Homo sapiens: one gene and its partner. The protein of the gene in region 2 binds, or shares a complex with, the protein of the main gene of each other region. Each region holds a gene or a part of one and is shown on either strand. Other genes may lie near its edges.

Evidence for each region.
Region 1: ODAD4 (region 2) and CLXN share a complex: the UniProt entries of both Homo sapiens proteins name them as parts of the outer dynein arm-docking complex.

The regions. Positions count from the first base shown.
Region 1 is NC_000008.11:48,732,029-48,740,604, forward strand, and holds the start of CLXN (calaxin), read right to left. Parts: upstream 3,241-8,576; 5' UTR 3,124-3,240; coding exon 3,066-3,123; intron 2,657-3,065; exon of another isoform or gene 2,507-2,656; intron 1,232-2,506; exon of another isoform or gene 1,109-1,231; intron 1-1,108. UniProt on the Homo sapiens protein: Component of the outer dynein arm-docking complex (ODA-DC) that mediates outer dynein arms (ODA) binding onto the doublet microtubule. Seems to regulate the assembly of both ODAs and their axonemal docking complex onto ciliary microtubules.
Region 2 is NC_000017.11:41,961,122-41,967,364, reverse strand, and holds the end of ODAD4 (outer dynein arm-docking complex subunit 4), read right to left. Parts: intron 5,984-6,243; coding exon 5,899-5,983; intron 2,373-5,898; coding exon 1,882-2,372; 3' UTR 862-1,881; downstream 1-861. Other genes in the region: CNP (2',3'-cyclic-nucleotide 3'-phosphodiesterase), read right to left, coding at 478-480. UniProt on the Homo sapiens protein: Component of the outer dynein arm-docking complex (ODA-DC) that mediates outer dynein arms (ODA) binding onto the doublet microtubule. Plays an essential role for the assembly of ODA-DC and for the docking of ODA in ciliary axoneme.

The sequences.
Region 1 (8,576 bases), on a different chromosome or scaffold from region 2:
CAATATGGCTCTTCTTGAGGATTACGTAAAAATTAACATGCAACTATTCAGTAATAGTTTGGAGGAAGGAAATTTTTATTTAAAGGATATACACACAAACAGATACTTGCTCATACACATTATTGTATAAAGGACCATGGTTATAAATACCGAGTTAATTATTTGTGTTCCAATCCCCATTTGAGAATGTAGGTGGAAGGGTTATTGCCTGGTCTTGATAATATAAAAGCTCAAATACCAAGTATGGGCGGAAGTTGGGGAAAATTTATTTTGAAACCAGTCAAAACTGTGATTGAGCATTTTAACAAACAAGGACAAAACCTGTGTGTGTATAACAGAAGACAGCATCTAGGAATGGAAAAATCACACCTCATCCTAGAGGTCAGTACAGGCATTTGTGGGATTTCTGGTTTGGAAAACCACATTTAAAGAGAAACACTAAAAAGTCTGGGAAAAAAGATTCAGCAAATAAATAGTAGGAAACAATATAATGGTTATGATTTCAAAAACAGCTGTTAGTCACTGTGGAAAACAGTATGATAGCTCCTCATAAAAATTAAACACAATTATTGCGTGATCCAGGAATTCTACTTCTATTTACATACTCAGAAGAACTGAAAGCAGGAACCTGTACAACAATGTTCATAGTGTCATCATTCACAACAGTCAAAAGACAGATGCAAGAGTCCATCAATGGAGGAATGGATAGACAAAATGTGGTGTATTCATACAATGAAATATCATTCAGCCTTAAAAAGGAAGAAAATTCTGACACATAGATGAACATTTATGGATATTGCACTTAGTCAAATAAGCCAGACACAAAAGGACACATATTGTATGATTCCTCTTATATAAGGTACTTAGTCAGATTTATAGAGACAAAGTAGAATGATAGTTGCCAGGGACTAGGATGAGGAGGGAATGGTGAGTTAACATTTAATGGGTAGAGTTTCCACTGGGAACAATGAACAAGTTACGGAGGTGGATGGTGGTGTTGCAAGCAGAACAGTGTGAATGTACTTAATGCCATGAAATTAAGCACTTAAAATGGTTAAAATAGTAAATTTCATGTTATATGTAACCACATACACACACACACACAAACCTCCTAAAAAGCAAGAGCTGTTAGTTGTTGCGGAAGAAAAGCCTGCATGAAGAATGATGTACTCTGTTCATGTACATAAAATGGTAGCAGAGGGGATGTTGGTTAGCCATTTTTCCATCTCAGCTGAAATAAAAATTTTTAAAAACTAGTTTAATTTATTACCCAAAGGATCAAAGGTTAGCCATAAGAAAACTTTTATTGCTAAACATTTCTTAAATTCTAGAATACAATACTAAATGAAACAAGAAAATTCAAGAATAGGTTTTCATCTTCTTGGAATGCTGTGAATGTGTCCTGCAGAACATATCTGTAGAACAGTGCATGAACTAGATGTTCTCTTAAGATCTTTCACTCTTCTTTGATTCTACAAAATTTATCCATTGAATCTTGATAGCTTTATTGTCTTGCAACTAAAACAAAATTTAACTTTAGGGGAAAGTTCTTCCGTTAAAGAAAATTTAAAATTATTATAATGTCCATGACGTATAACTATTTCTATAGACTTTAACTAATAATCATCTAAGTTTGTAAGACTCATTGAAAATTTTTTAGTAAACAAAAAAATCAAGAGCAGACTTTTTCCTGCCATATTTTTACTTACCTTTAAAAATATACACTCACCTTTTGATTGTTCACAGAATGATTGTCTGCAATGCATTCAAACTTACCGAACAGAGACTAAATCAAATTCAAACTTACGGAAAGGGACAAAATCAGTATTGTGTATAGCAGCTATTGCATTGTTTTTGAATATTTATCAAAAATGTTTACTAGATGTTTACTAGAAGAATACCTATTCTCCCAGAAATGAAAGTGTTTTAAGAAAAACAATAACAGAACAAAACCCTCATCAGAGTATAGTAGTCATAATAATATCTTAAATTACAGGATTTTTTTCCTAAACATTTTAAGATGCGTACACACACCATAATATTCATTTATATCACCATCCACTAAGAGAGCATTTCTTACCAGGTATTAAATCAGATACTAATGATAATTAGAATGCACTAGATCTTACAATCTCTAAAACTACATCAACATGTTTATTCCTTCTTTTTTGAGCGACTCGGTTATTTGGGGGATTGTTGCTTCTGTTTCTTCAAGTGGCCAGTAGTTTTGCAATTAGCACACACAACTTCTAAGTTTGCTCGACAGGAAATTATCTTCCTCATCTAAACCATACCCACGGCTTCCTTGCTAAAGTGCAATTATGTTTTTCAGTCTGAATATAAACTCAAAGTTTCCTATGAAATTCTAGGACCACCCTTTCAAATGCGAGATTAGAGCAGGTGCCTTCAAATAGGGCTCATCTTGTCACCTGCAAAGTCTCCTTTATCTTTCAACACCAGGGGCCACTGGAAAGTGGGAGTCTAAAGTTGGGAACCCATTCTTTACCACGTGTTTAGTTGTGCTGAACTCTGGTTTCCAAACAAATATTGTTCTGAGGCACAGATGAGATGACACAACTCATCTCTCCGAAAGATGTTGAGAAGTTGAGCACCGTTTTCTCCTATGGGTCTCTTGGTAAGCTTCCAGAACTTGGACCTGCGGGTGTATGTGCGAGCTATAAAGCAGGGTGAGTGCACGGTCTACCTTGGTGGTGCTACTTTTCTTGAGACCAGTTGGTTTTAGCATTTATTTTACACCTCATTGAGGCTAACATCACATGTTTCTATCAGGTAAAAGAAGAGGGTTGGAGAAGCAAGTAAATGCATGTGTGGGAGTGTAGGTAGCACCAGAGGCGGAGGCCTGGGTTCCTAAGATCAAACGCAAGGAGCTGGCACCCCGGGATTCCCTCTCTGACTTCTGCTTAAGGGGCCGGGGTGGAGGGGCGGTAGGTAGCCCACAGAGTCCCAGCAGGCGGGAAGCAGGCACAACAGCGGACCTTAGCACGGGGTGGGACCCAGGCTCGGTCCAGGAGCCTCGGCCTGTCCAGCACTACATTCTTACTTACAATGCTTGCAATTTTTGGTTAAGGTGTCCGTCAGCTTCTGCAGTTTCTTGCGGTTCATGTCTGGCGCTCAGAGAATCGGGCCGCGGCGGGGGTCTCTGGGCGCGCGGCTACCGAGACCCTCGCGGGACCCCCGCGAGCCCTGGTGCTGGGTCAACGCGGTGAGGTCTCAGTTACTGATCTCGTGCGCGGCCCTAACAGACGGTGTAGCCAAGGCAACGGCTCAGCCCGCCGCGGATTGGCTCCCAGGCTGCCCGCGACGTAGCCAAAGCTACAGCTGGGCCCCGCCCATCGGCTCAGCGACTGCTCGCGCTGGGTTCTCGGTGCGCGGTGCCGCCGGCAGGGTCCCAGCTGGCCGCCTTGAGGGCTGTATTCTGACTGTTGACGTTGGAGTTTAAATGTTCAGTTGTTGCTGGCTTTTGAGTTCGCAGCCTCTTTGCTTGATTGCAGTGTAAATCATTAAAATCTGAAATGTGGTGTGCACGCTGTATGAGAGGTGTTTCGGGTCGTGAGCGTCACGCCTCAAGGGAAGGCCCAAGATCTTGGACATCTTGGGGGCTGGAGCAGCGTCACAAAATAGCAAGGTGCTGTCCAGAGGACGATCTTGCCGGGCCTCCCGTCAGAGGGCTAGAAGCTTGCTCTTTGGGCGGAGCCACTGCTTAGGTTTTCAGTCTTGGTGAGGTAACAGGAGGCAGTCTGTCACCTGAGGTCTTCGAGCTTTTAGTTGTGTTTCTGAGAGCAAGGGGAAATTGGAATACAGCCACGGGTTGCCTAAGGAGCGGGACGCGTTCCGAGGTCACTAGGAGATTTCATCACTGTGTGCACATCACGGTGCACCGACACAAACCTAGATGGCCTTGCCTACTGCACGCCAGGCTGTATGGTACAACCCATTGCTTCTGGGCTGCACCCCTGCACAGCAGGTCACAGCGCGGAATGCTGCAGGCAGCTAAAACAGAGTGCTAAGCACTCTGGGGAAGGTGCAGTGTTCCAGTACAGTGTTACATCTTATGGGACCACTGTCCTAATGTTGTCTGATGTTGACTTAAATGGCGCTATGTGGCTTGTGACTGTAGTTTTTTTCTTTTCCCACTGCCCTCATCTCACTTCCAAAAGATGGAGGTTGTCTGTGGAATCTGAGGAAAGCCACGAGGAATTTTTATACTGCTTAAATAGGCATTCCCCCCAATGAAAACGGGCTGACAACACCACTTGGGTGTGGGGTACAGCCCAATCTTGCTTTTCCGGAAAATATCTCAGCAACCTTGGTCCTTTACTTATTTGAAAGACAAGTTCTGTGCCGGCAGACAAAGGATATTCCTTACATCTTCAGGGTGGGAGGACTTTCTGCTTTTCCTGATCACAGAGGGGATATCCTCTTTCAGCTAAGGCAGCAATAAAAAGGGGTGGCTCAGCCAGGATCACCAAATCTACAGTATTCTCCAGAGTGCCTGCTCGTTTAACTTCAGAGGGGAAAATGACAAACTATGTTATTGTACACATACTGGCATTTTTAGACTGAAGGCAGAAAAATTCTACTAACCATGAGTAATAATCCCAAATGAAATAATTCCAATGTCGAGGCCTCTGGTTTTTCTTTACTGTTTCATTTGTTTGTGGAATGAAGGATTGGGATGCTGTTTGAAACTAGAGCAAAGGGTGCTTGGTAAAGGCATGGACTGTGTTATCCTAAAGCAAATGTCCTAACAACAGTTACCCGATATGAATTGATGGTGATTATGAGTTTGTAACAGTAGTATTTTTAAATAGTGTTTCTACATATCCCCTTGTCTAGAAGAGTGAAATTCCTGAGACCATAGAGAACAAAAGGGAAAGACTGGACATATTTGAATTATACTTACCTGTGACACCTTATTGATTTCTGTTGGATCACAGAGCTGTAGCAAATACTTAATTCCTAGAGATTGCTGCACTGCTCACTTCAAGAGACAAGGAACCGAAAGAGTGGTTGTCAGTAATTACTAAGAGACGCTGTGGGCTCCCCACCTGATGTACTAGGCCTGTGTTGGGGAGCAGGCCTGCGCTGTTGGTGAGCACATTGGTGGTTATTTCTGGTGGCCTGGGGAGATCGCATACACCGGGTGCTTGCTATAGGTAAGCTAATTAGTTATTCCTTCACGAGTTTAAGGCCTAGAGCCCATCAGCCATGTTCCCTTAAAGTTAAAAAAATAATAAAAAGATGTAGGGGCAATATCACAGATTGTTGAAATTAAAATATGCCGGGCCAAAACTCCTTAACCTGTTGAGCAAACTTTGTAAGTCACCTCCTCCTCTTCCACTTCTTTTATCCTCCAGTTCTTTCTTCCATGCAGTTCTTTTAGCCAAAAAAATCAACCAATCTATCTATCTATCTATCTATCTATCTATCTATCTATCTATCATCTATCTATCTATCTTTCTATCTATCTATGCAAATGCATTGTTTTGTGAATCTCACTTATCTAAGAGAGTGATTTGCAGAGTTGACCTTACAATAAGGTCTTATCATCTTTTTCAGGGAAAGCACAATGTTTATTTGGAGTATGTTTTGTCAACATACGGGTAAACTTCAGAGCTTTCATTACATTCTTGTGAAGTTTTGGAACTTAATATTTTTAGACTTTAGAAACAAGTTGCAGGCCTGATTGAGTCAGTGAATAACATTTCAAAGCAAGTTGAAGTTTCTATTTGTAGTTTTAGTTGCTTATGCTGAGTAGACACAGGACTGCTTTCCCCCAAGAGCTTTCTCAGAGTAAGGCAATTAAGCCTAAGAGGCTACTTCATATTAAATCAATCAATAATGGAATAATAAAGGATTGTGTTTAATTCGTATTGGACATAAATTTTACTGTGCATGAAATGATCATAGAACTTTCCAAAAATCCAAGCAACCTCAAGATGAATAACTTTGTAAACACAGAAGTACATTAAAGTGACTATTAATGCTATGTTTCCTTTAGTTTTGTGTGCAAAACAATCTTCCCTTTGACTCAGCATTCACTGGATTGTTGCCATGATAAACAGCTTGGACCTTGACTTGATGAAATTGTTTTCCTTAATGTGGACCTTTTATGATGAAGGCCTTTGGAAACTGTTGAGGAAATGACATCATAGAATTGATCTCCAAGTATATCACAAATCTATTATAAAATTGCTTGAATAAAAGGGAAATAGGTTAGTTACCTGCATAATAGAAATTCAACTTTACTAATTTTATTTTGTGGAGACAGCGATAACAAAAATAAGAGTTATATGTGTGACCAGTTGTTTGGGTGGTCGAATCTCCAAATCTCTACCACTTGTCACTCTCCCCTTTGCTGTAGGGTTGTGGTGACAAGCTAGAGTCTCAGTATTCAGACCCACAGAACACTGTCTTATGCACAACTTCTGCATATTTTTCACCCCAACCACTCCCAGTGGCAACTCTTCAAAGAGCTCTTTCTGACACCCTACGTGAAGTGAAGTGAACCCTTCTCCACCCAGCCATTCTCTTCCTTGATACTATTTTTTTAGCACTTGCTACTGTGTGAAACAATTGTTTTTTTCTAACCTCTCCTTCCCACCAGACTAAATCACATGATCTCTCTCTCTCTCTCCATATATTTAAGTCTATTTCACTCGCTGTATCTCTGCATTTGTTTGTTTATCATCTGTCTGTACCTCTGAAATTTGACCACATGGTCCATGTTGTGTGGTCTGTATTGATGGAAAGTGGTAGGAGAACCACTCCAGCAGGAATGAACCCCAGGTTTCCCTGCAGCACCCTGGGGCTGAGTCCCTGGTACAGTAACCACAATGGAGCCTTTAAAGGGAGCTGGGCAATATAGAAGAGCTTTCATTTAAACTGACCTTTCTCCAAAATTCACACTTGATATTCACTGGTGTTGACGTATTTCTAGACTTTTTTTTTTTTTTTTTTTTTTACTGTAATCAAGTGACCAGCCAGTAAGACAAATGCCTAAGGTTTACTAAGGATAGGATTCTTGTATCTCAACATGTAATTTATAAAGTTGTAAATTAAGATGTGGCCTGTGACAGTTAATTATTATGATAGCCATAATGTCAGCAGGTCTGAAGTTTTCGGTAAAGAATCTGGCTCTTTGAGACCTGGCAGAGCTGACCAAGAAATCCTGCTGAATGTGCTGGGCTTGATCCCCTCAGCACTGGGTCATGCGCCACTGTAGCCAGAGTCATGGCAACTGTACTACCTGCAAAGCTGCCTCAGAGACAGAAGATACCCACACCTTTTTCTTACCAAGCCCAGGGCATCTTGCAACATTTGAGCCCTAACCAGGGAATTCATGAGCATCACTAAGCACAGAACAGGACCTGACCTACCCAGAGACCCCACCAGGCAATGCCTGGTCCTCTTAGCCAATGTCAACCAGAAAATAACTGGTATCACTTCTGATACTTGCCACCATTGTTTAAACCACTTCCCCCAACTCCATAGTTCTTGCTCCCTAAATGAAAAGGAAGCACCCAAGATCGCCTACCTTGAATCATGTTACCCCTTTAGTAGACTCTGTTTATTAGCCTGCACTCTCTAACCCCTTTCACTCATATCCAACAAAACTCATTTCAACTGTGAATGTTTACCTTACCAGATCCATCTTTGCACAAAGCCAACTCTCCACCTTTCTTCCCTGAACCTGCTACTCCCCTGAAAATATTGCTTGTCCTGTAGATATTCTCCAGAAAAAACTACCCATTTCCTCAAATCTACTCACTCATAGCCAGAAGAAAGTCAAAATCATCTGGACTGTCATCAACTTTCCATGATCTTATGAGCTCTATCCATTCTTCTCTACACTTCTTAGAAAGTGCAAGTGCTGCTCCCCCCTCCAGTGCTGCACCTCTTGCTTTGTTCATCCTTTATGCTCCTGCCTGTTTCCTGAATTTGCCTGCTGTCTTCCATCTTGTGCTCCTCAAAACTGCCTGCTGGATTGCCAAAGTGATCCGACCATTTCTTCCTCCTGCTTAACATTGAAAGGCCTTCCCAGTGCCAGCAAGATGGAGTCCAGACCCAGTAGCATGGTTTCCATGGTTTTCCAATATGTGGCATCTGCCAGGCTTGAATGCCTCTTCTCTGACCAGTCCCTGTTTTTAAAGGCTGGAGCCCTAGCAGCCCTGTTAGACTATGAGGTTCACTGGGACTTTGGGCCCCTCAGAGTGTCACATTAACTAGAAGAGGCTGTGTCTCTCTTACTGTGGGCACTCCTCAACAGGCATGTGAAATTAGCTTGTCTCATTTATCCCACTGATATTTGGGGTTTTTCAAAAAATTTCATTTACACCCAAACCTGCAAATGCAAACTTAAAATGAGAATGTTGGACTTCATTTATTAAGAGTCCTTTGAGCTTTGTGATTCTTGAAAACAAAACTAAAGTTGATATCCATATATTCTCACTGTCCTTTCACGAGGCCGACCTTATGAAAATGTCAGCAGTTGACCATTTTGACTACAAAAAAACTGCAATTTCATATCAACCTAATGCATGACTGTATCTTTT
Region 2 (6,243 bases):
TGTTTTCCTATCTTCTAGAAGCCACAAGGGACGGCAGCTTTTACCGTAAAGGGTCCCCTCCTCTGAACTGGCTCCACCTCCCGCCCGCACCCGGGCGCGGGGCAGCGGTTCCGCGTGATGAGACTGGGCCCGGGGAGGGGGCGCCGAAGCGGCTGCCCCAGCGCGGGCCTGCGTGGGGTCGGGAGCAGCTCCCGGGCTCCCGGCCCAGGCCCACCCAGGCTCCCAGAGGCGCAGCAGCTTCTGCGGTCCCGAGTTCCCTCCTGAGAAACACCACCGTTTCCCTTTACAGCGGCCTCTCCGGCACCCCAAAACCCCTCCGCTTCTCCCAGACCTCAGGGCCGCCCTGAGTACCAAGAAAACTGGAAGTCGAACCCGGAGCCCCGGGTCCTCGTTTGCAAGACGCTTCCTCCCGAGGGGCCCCGACACTCGTTTCCCGCCCTGGTGCTACCCCGTGCCCGGCCCCGCCCGGCCTCTCACCATGATGAGGAGGGGCGCCACCGTCGCCGCCTCTGCCGGCACCAGCGCTCCGGGGCCGCCCGCCTGCGCGGAGGGACACGGGAGTCCAGCGGTGGCACGACCCGAGCCCGGCCGCTTTACATAGCCCGGGGGGCGGAGCGGGCACCCGGGCGGGCTGGGGGCGGGCCGTCTCCTCTGCGCGCAGGCGCTGCGAACCAAAACCCGAAACTCTCGCCGCGCGCGGGAACCTCGGCCCGGTCCCGCCCCCTGCGCGCGCCTGCTCCCCACGCGCACCCACCCACTGCGCCTGCGAGCTGAGCGGCCACTAGCTTTTTCTGCGTGTTGAGGGGTAACTCAGTCACCCTCCCCGGTCCCGTGGATTAGCAGGAAGTGAGTGAGGCAGGGTCGTGCAAAGTCGGATCCTGTCTTTAATTTTTGATATTTTATTCATCATGGACTTTTGCATTAATTAAAAACTTTTTTTTTTACCACATTGGATTAAAATATTATCATGCAATTTGCTGGCATTCCGGTAAACTCTGCATCTGAAATGCCTCACTGGCCTCATTCGTCCAGGCCCTGTGCCAGCCGAAAGTCAGTCTCAGCCCCGACCTTTCCTTCTAGGAGCTGTGGAGACAGACCAGGATGGCAATGGCCAAAGGGACAGATGAGTAACGGAGTGAAATCCTAACATCCTCTGAGGCCAGATCCTCAGCTGCCACCTCCTCTGTGAAACCACTGAGAGCTCCGTTGGATTTTTGAGTTTCCTGTCCAAGTGCTGTGCTAAGCACTCAGTCCTCGCAGCAACCCCTGAGGCAGGTATCCCATTGTTCAGAGGAGAAGCCAGCTTGGAGAGCCTGATTTACCTGATTATGCCACCCAGAGGTGTCAGAGGCGGAGTCTGTCTGCCCTCCCGACTCCCAGGCCACTCCCCTATCTTTGGCCTCACTCCCAGCATTCGCTTGGTTCTGGCTTGCGGCATTCTCCTACCTGTGACAGCTGGGGCCGCCCCACCACTGTTCCATCCATAAAGCCTCCCCGCTGTCCTGCGCACTGGAGGGACTCAGTCAGTCACCGGTGTGTGGGAAGCACCTCTCCTCCCAGGCCTTCCCCTCTCCTCCCTGTGACTTCTTGTTCCCTGTAGCGCCCGTATCTTCACCCTCCTGAAACCCTTTCTTCTTGGCACCTTTCTCATTTCTTCCACGATGCTCTTCCAAGAATGGGCAGGGGTGAAGAGGCAAAGTGACAGACTCAGGGTTTGCAAGAGTGAAAGACACCTATTTAATGGCAAAATAGTGATGGAAAGCAGCAGAAGTAAAACCCTCATTTTTCCTATAACAGACAAATCGCTTGAAAATCCAGTTTAATAAAATCCCATGATCCCTCTGAACACCAGCTTCCTGATCCTCATCTCTACCGATGGCTTCATTCATATTCCTTTTCCATCTCATTTCCTGTTTTTTTCGTTTCTCCTATTTCTCCAAATTGTGTTTTTCCCAGTTCTTCTGGCTCTCTTCTGCCCACTTCTGAAAGTTTCTTTAGTTCTTCTGGTTCCTGTCTGCTGAATTCTCCTGAGAGTCTTTGCTCTAATTCTCCCGAAGGCCTCCTATAAATTTCTCTTGACTCTCTTCTGCCAGCTTCTAGTAGCTTCCTGCCTGTTTCTCCTGATCTTGTGCCTAATTCTCCTGACAGGCCCTTGGCAACTGCTCCCAAATCGCTTCTGGCTTTTCCTGCTTCCACACTCTGCTTTCCGCTTGCTGGGCTCTGCAGAGCTTCCCCAAAAGCCTCATCGTCCTCATCTGTCTCTTTCTCATCCTCACTATGGTCCCACTGCTTCACCACCTTCTCGGGCTCATCTCTCACTCTCCTCATGTCCTTCTCTCTTGTTATTATTCTATCTTCATACAGTGAAGCTTCTGAAAAATAAGAGAAAAGCGGGAAGAAAGATAAAAGTTTGTTCATGTCAGGCCGGGTGCGGTGGCTCACGCCTGTAATCTCAGCACTTTGGGAGGCTGAGGCAGGCAGATCCCTTGAGGCCAGGAGTTCCAGACCAGCCTGGGCGACACAGTGAGACCCTGTCTGTACTAAAAATACAAAAATTAGCCAGGCGTGGTGGTTGGCGCCTGTAGTCCCAGCTACCCGGAGGCTGAGGCAGAAGAATCGCTTGAGCCCAGGAGGTTGGGGCTGTGATGAGCCAAAATCCAGCCACTGCACTGCAGCCTGGGTGACAGAGCAAGACCCGTCTCCAAAAAAGAAAGAAGAAAAAAAAGAAAGAAACTGTTCATCTCTGTGGAGGCCTGTGCTTTTGAGAGGCCGATGAGAGAAAGGCCCTGAGAATGACTGTTTTTGCCAGCTCTTTAAATTGGTGTTGACAGCACACCTTTCCAAAAGCAGAGAAAGGGAACCATCATTGACTGAGCCCAGCTCCGTCCTGTGCATCACGTGAGGGCTGTATAGCTTATCCCATCCAGACATCATGAAAATGCGCACTGCCGTTGATTTGAGTTTGCAGTCAAGGGACCTGAGATCGATAGAAAAGAAATCACACGGCCGGGCGGCATGGCTCACGCCTGTAATCCCAGCACTTTGGGAGGCCGAGGCAGGTGGATCACCTGAGGTCAGGAGTTTGAGACCAGCCTGGCCAACAAGGTGAAACCCCGTCTCTACTAAAAATACAAAAATAAGCTGGGCATGGTGGCAGGCGCCTGTAATCCCAGCTACTTGGGAGGCTGAGGCAGGAGAATCGCTTGAACCCAGGAGGCGGAGGTTGCAGTGAGCCAAGATTGTGCCATTGTACTCCAGCCTGGGCAACAAGAGCAAAACTCCATCTCAAAAAAAAAAAAAATTAACCGGGAGTGGTGGCACAAGACTGTAGTCCCAGCTACTCAGGAGGCTGAGGCAGGAGAATCACTTGAACCTAGGAGGCGGAGGTTGTAGTGAGCCGAGATCGCGCCACTGCACTCCAGACTGGGTAACAGAGGGGAGACTCCATTTCAAAAAAAAAAAAAGGCACAGTGGCTCATGCCTGTAATCCCAGCACTTTGGGAGGCTGAGATGGAGGTTGCAGTGAGCTGAGATCGCGCCACTGCACTCCAGACTGGGTAACAGAGGGGAGACTCCATTTCAAAAAAAAAAAGGCACAGTGGCTCATGCCTGTAATCCCAGCACTTTGGGAGGCTGAGATGGAGGTTGCAGTGAGCTGAGATTGCACCACTGCATTCCAGCCTGGATGACAGAACAAGACTCCGTTTCAAAAAAAAAAAAAAAGAAAGAAAAGAAATCACACAATGGTCACACTGCAAGTGTGCAAGTGAGACAGAATTTGAACCCAGGACAGTCTGACCCCAGAACACCTCTTTTCCCTGCAAGAAATAGCATAGGTGCTGGAAAATGACAGAAGGATTTTCTCCAGCATCTTCATTCTGACACTTTCTCTTTGTCCCTGGGAAGCACATTCATTATTTGTTGGGAGGTTTCCTATGAAAATATAGAAAAAACATAAGGAAAAAGATAGGTTTCCTATAAAGATATACGCTGCTAACAAAAAGTTCAGCTGAAGAGTTATTTTACAAGCAAAGGGATCCTTGCTCCTAAATTTTTTTTTTTATCAGTTATGGAGAAAAGTTACATCCCCTTCTGCGTCTCCCTTACATTCTCCTCCTGGAAACCACTAGTTACTGAGGTATCTGCAGAGGGTCTCAGGTCTCAGGGGGTCACAGCCCTTTGGTGGTGAAAACAGATGCAATGCTGCCACCTGCTGTTCTGAGAGGGACGTGCCCGGCAGTTCTCCAGGCACAAGGACGCAGGCCAGGGTAGGGAGACTGGGGTGTTGGCTGCTTCCCCGCAGAGTCTCTCTCCACAGCTGTTGCTCCTGTGGCTTCTCAGAGCAGCTCAAAGGGCATGTGGGGGCGGAGACAGAGCCCCTCTGAGGGGGTCCAGCCACCACAGAGCAGGTGCTGGATAATAAAGGGCTGTCATCTGGCTGCTCAGGTGCCCAGAAACCTCCCGCTGCCCTGCCTGGACCAGAAAGGATTTCAGCCTTGCAGCCTGGAGGGCTGCAGCCAAGAATCTGCATTGGGCTCTGTCCTCCCGGACCTCCAGCCCCAGCTCTGTTCACTGCAGTCTGGCTGGAGTGAGAGCTCCACAGACTGGGGCAGGAAAAGGCTGTCTGTGTCACTAGAAACAGTGTGGCACGGGCCGACGCGTGGGTTCTAGAGCAGACTGCCCAAGACTGAAAACCACTGTAGCCTCTAACCCCTCTGCCTCCATGTCCTCCATAAAGTCAAGCTAATAACACTTCCTTCATAGTGTTCCTGAACAGATACAGATAGGATGAGTCCGTGCACACAGTCTTTGAAAGAATGCCTGGCCTGCGGGAAGCATGAATGGGGGTCGGCTACTGCGCTTAACACCCCTGTTCCTCTAGGCCCCTCTCCAGTGGGGTAGGGCTGCTCAGCCATCTTCTGCTTCTCCTTCCCTCACTCCCTCCCTGCAGGAAAGGAGAGCCCAAAGGCAGGGGGCCAAAGGCCTGTTTACTCCCTGGAGACCTTGTGAGAAAGAATGTGGTAAGGCACAGCTGTCAGGCAGCCTCTGCACCTTATGCCCCTCTGCACCTGCCCATCACACTGCTGGCCCGAGAGCAGCGCCGCAGGTGGGGAGAGTGGGGCCCCGAGTCACCCCTCCCTAGCTACATGACTCTGGCAGAGCACTCACCTCACTCAGCCTCCCTTTCCCCCCACAGCACCTACACCTCCTAGTGGGGTAAAGACCCAACAAGATCACTCCTGTCTGGTGCTTAACCCAGTGCCTAGCACACAGTAAGAGCCCCCAAAGTGTAGCTACTGTTATTCTGTCTCTGTGCCTCTGGCCCTGCTGTTCCCTGCTGGAAAAATGCCTTTCTTCTCCCACTTCTCTCCTGGAAAACTCCTGGGCATCTTTTGGAGTTGGAGGTAGAAGATTTTTCCTCGTCGAAGCCTCCTCTGCCTCCCCAGAGGAGCCCACGCCCCGTTGCATGCACCCTCATGGCAGCACACCTCCACCTCGGTGTAGCACCTGTGTGCAGGATCCCAGCAGCTGACAACTCCACTGGTCAGCCTTGCCCAAAGGGCCATGGGCTCCTCCAGGGCAGGGATGGGCCTCTCTCCCCAGAATCTAACACCTTCCAGGTACATGACAAGTGCTCACCATATACTTGATGAATCAATTGAAGAGAGAAATGAGTGCGCTCTGGGGCCAGACAGTCCAGCCCATGGTGGGCTGAATCCTCACCCTCTACTGCCCCAGAGATAGGCTAGGGCTGCTGGTGGCACTGAAATTAGAATGCACGATGGGCAGTGCCAAGCCCCCAGATTGGGGAGCTGCTGTCGCATGTGTCTCGGACTAGAGGAAAAGAAAGCAGAGGGAGAATGCTGAAGTTGCCTTTTCAGAGTTTCAGGAACTCACCTCCCTCGCTTTTTTCTTTGAGATTCTCCACGTAGTTGGTTTTCCTCAGTTCTCTGATGATACCCTTGTTGGCATCGTCCAAGGCCTGTGGATGGTAGAGGGAGCTTAGCCCCTGTGTTTGGCACCTACACCATTAATTTTCCCCACCCAGATCAATCCCAGAAGGCAGGGCTCTGGTGGGAACCTGCCACCCTTGGTTTCCCTCTGGCCCCTCCAATGACCCCTACCCTCAGGTTAATCTACACTTACTGACTCAGAATGATCCACACAAATTGTGTCTGGGAGATACATGACTGCGAGTCAGTCAAATGCATTTCTCTTTGGCTTAGGCATGTATTGGGAGTT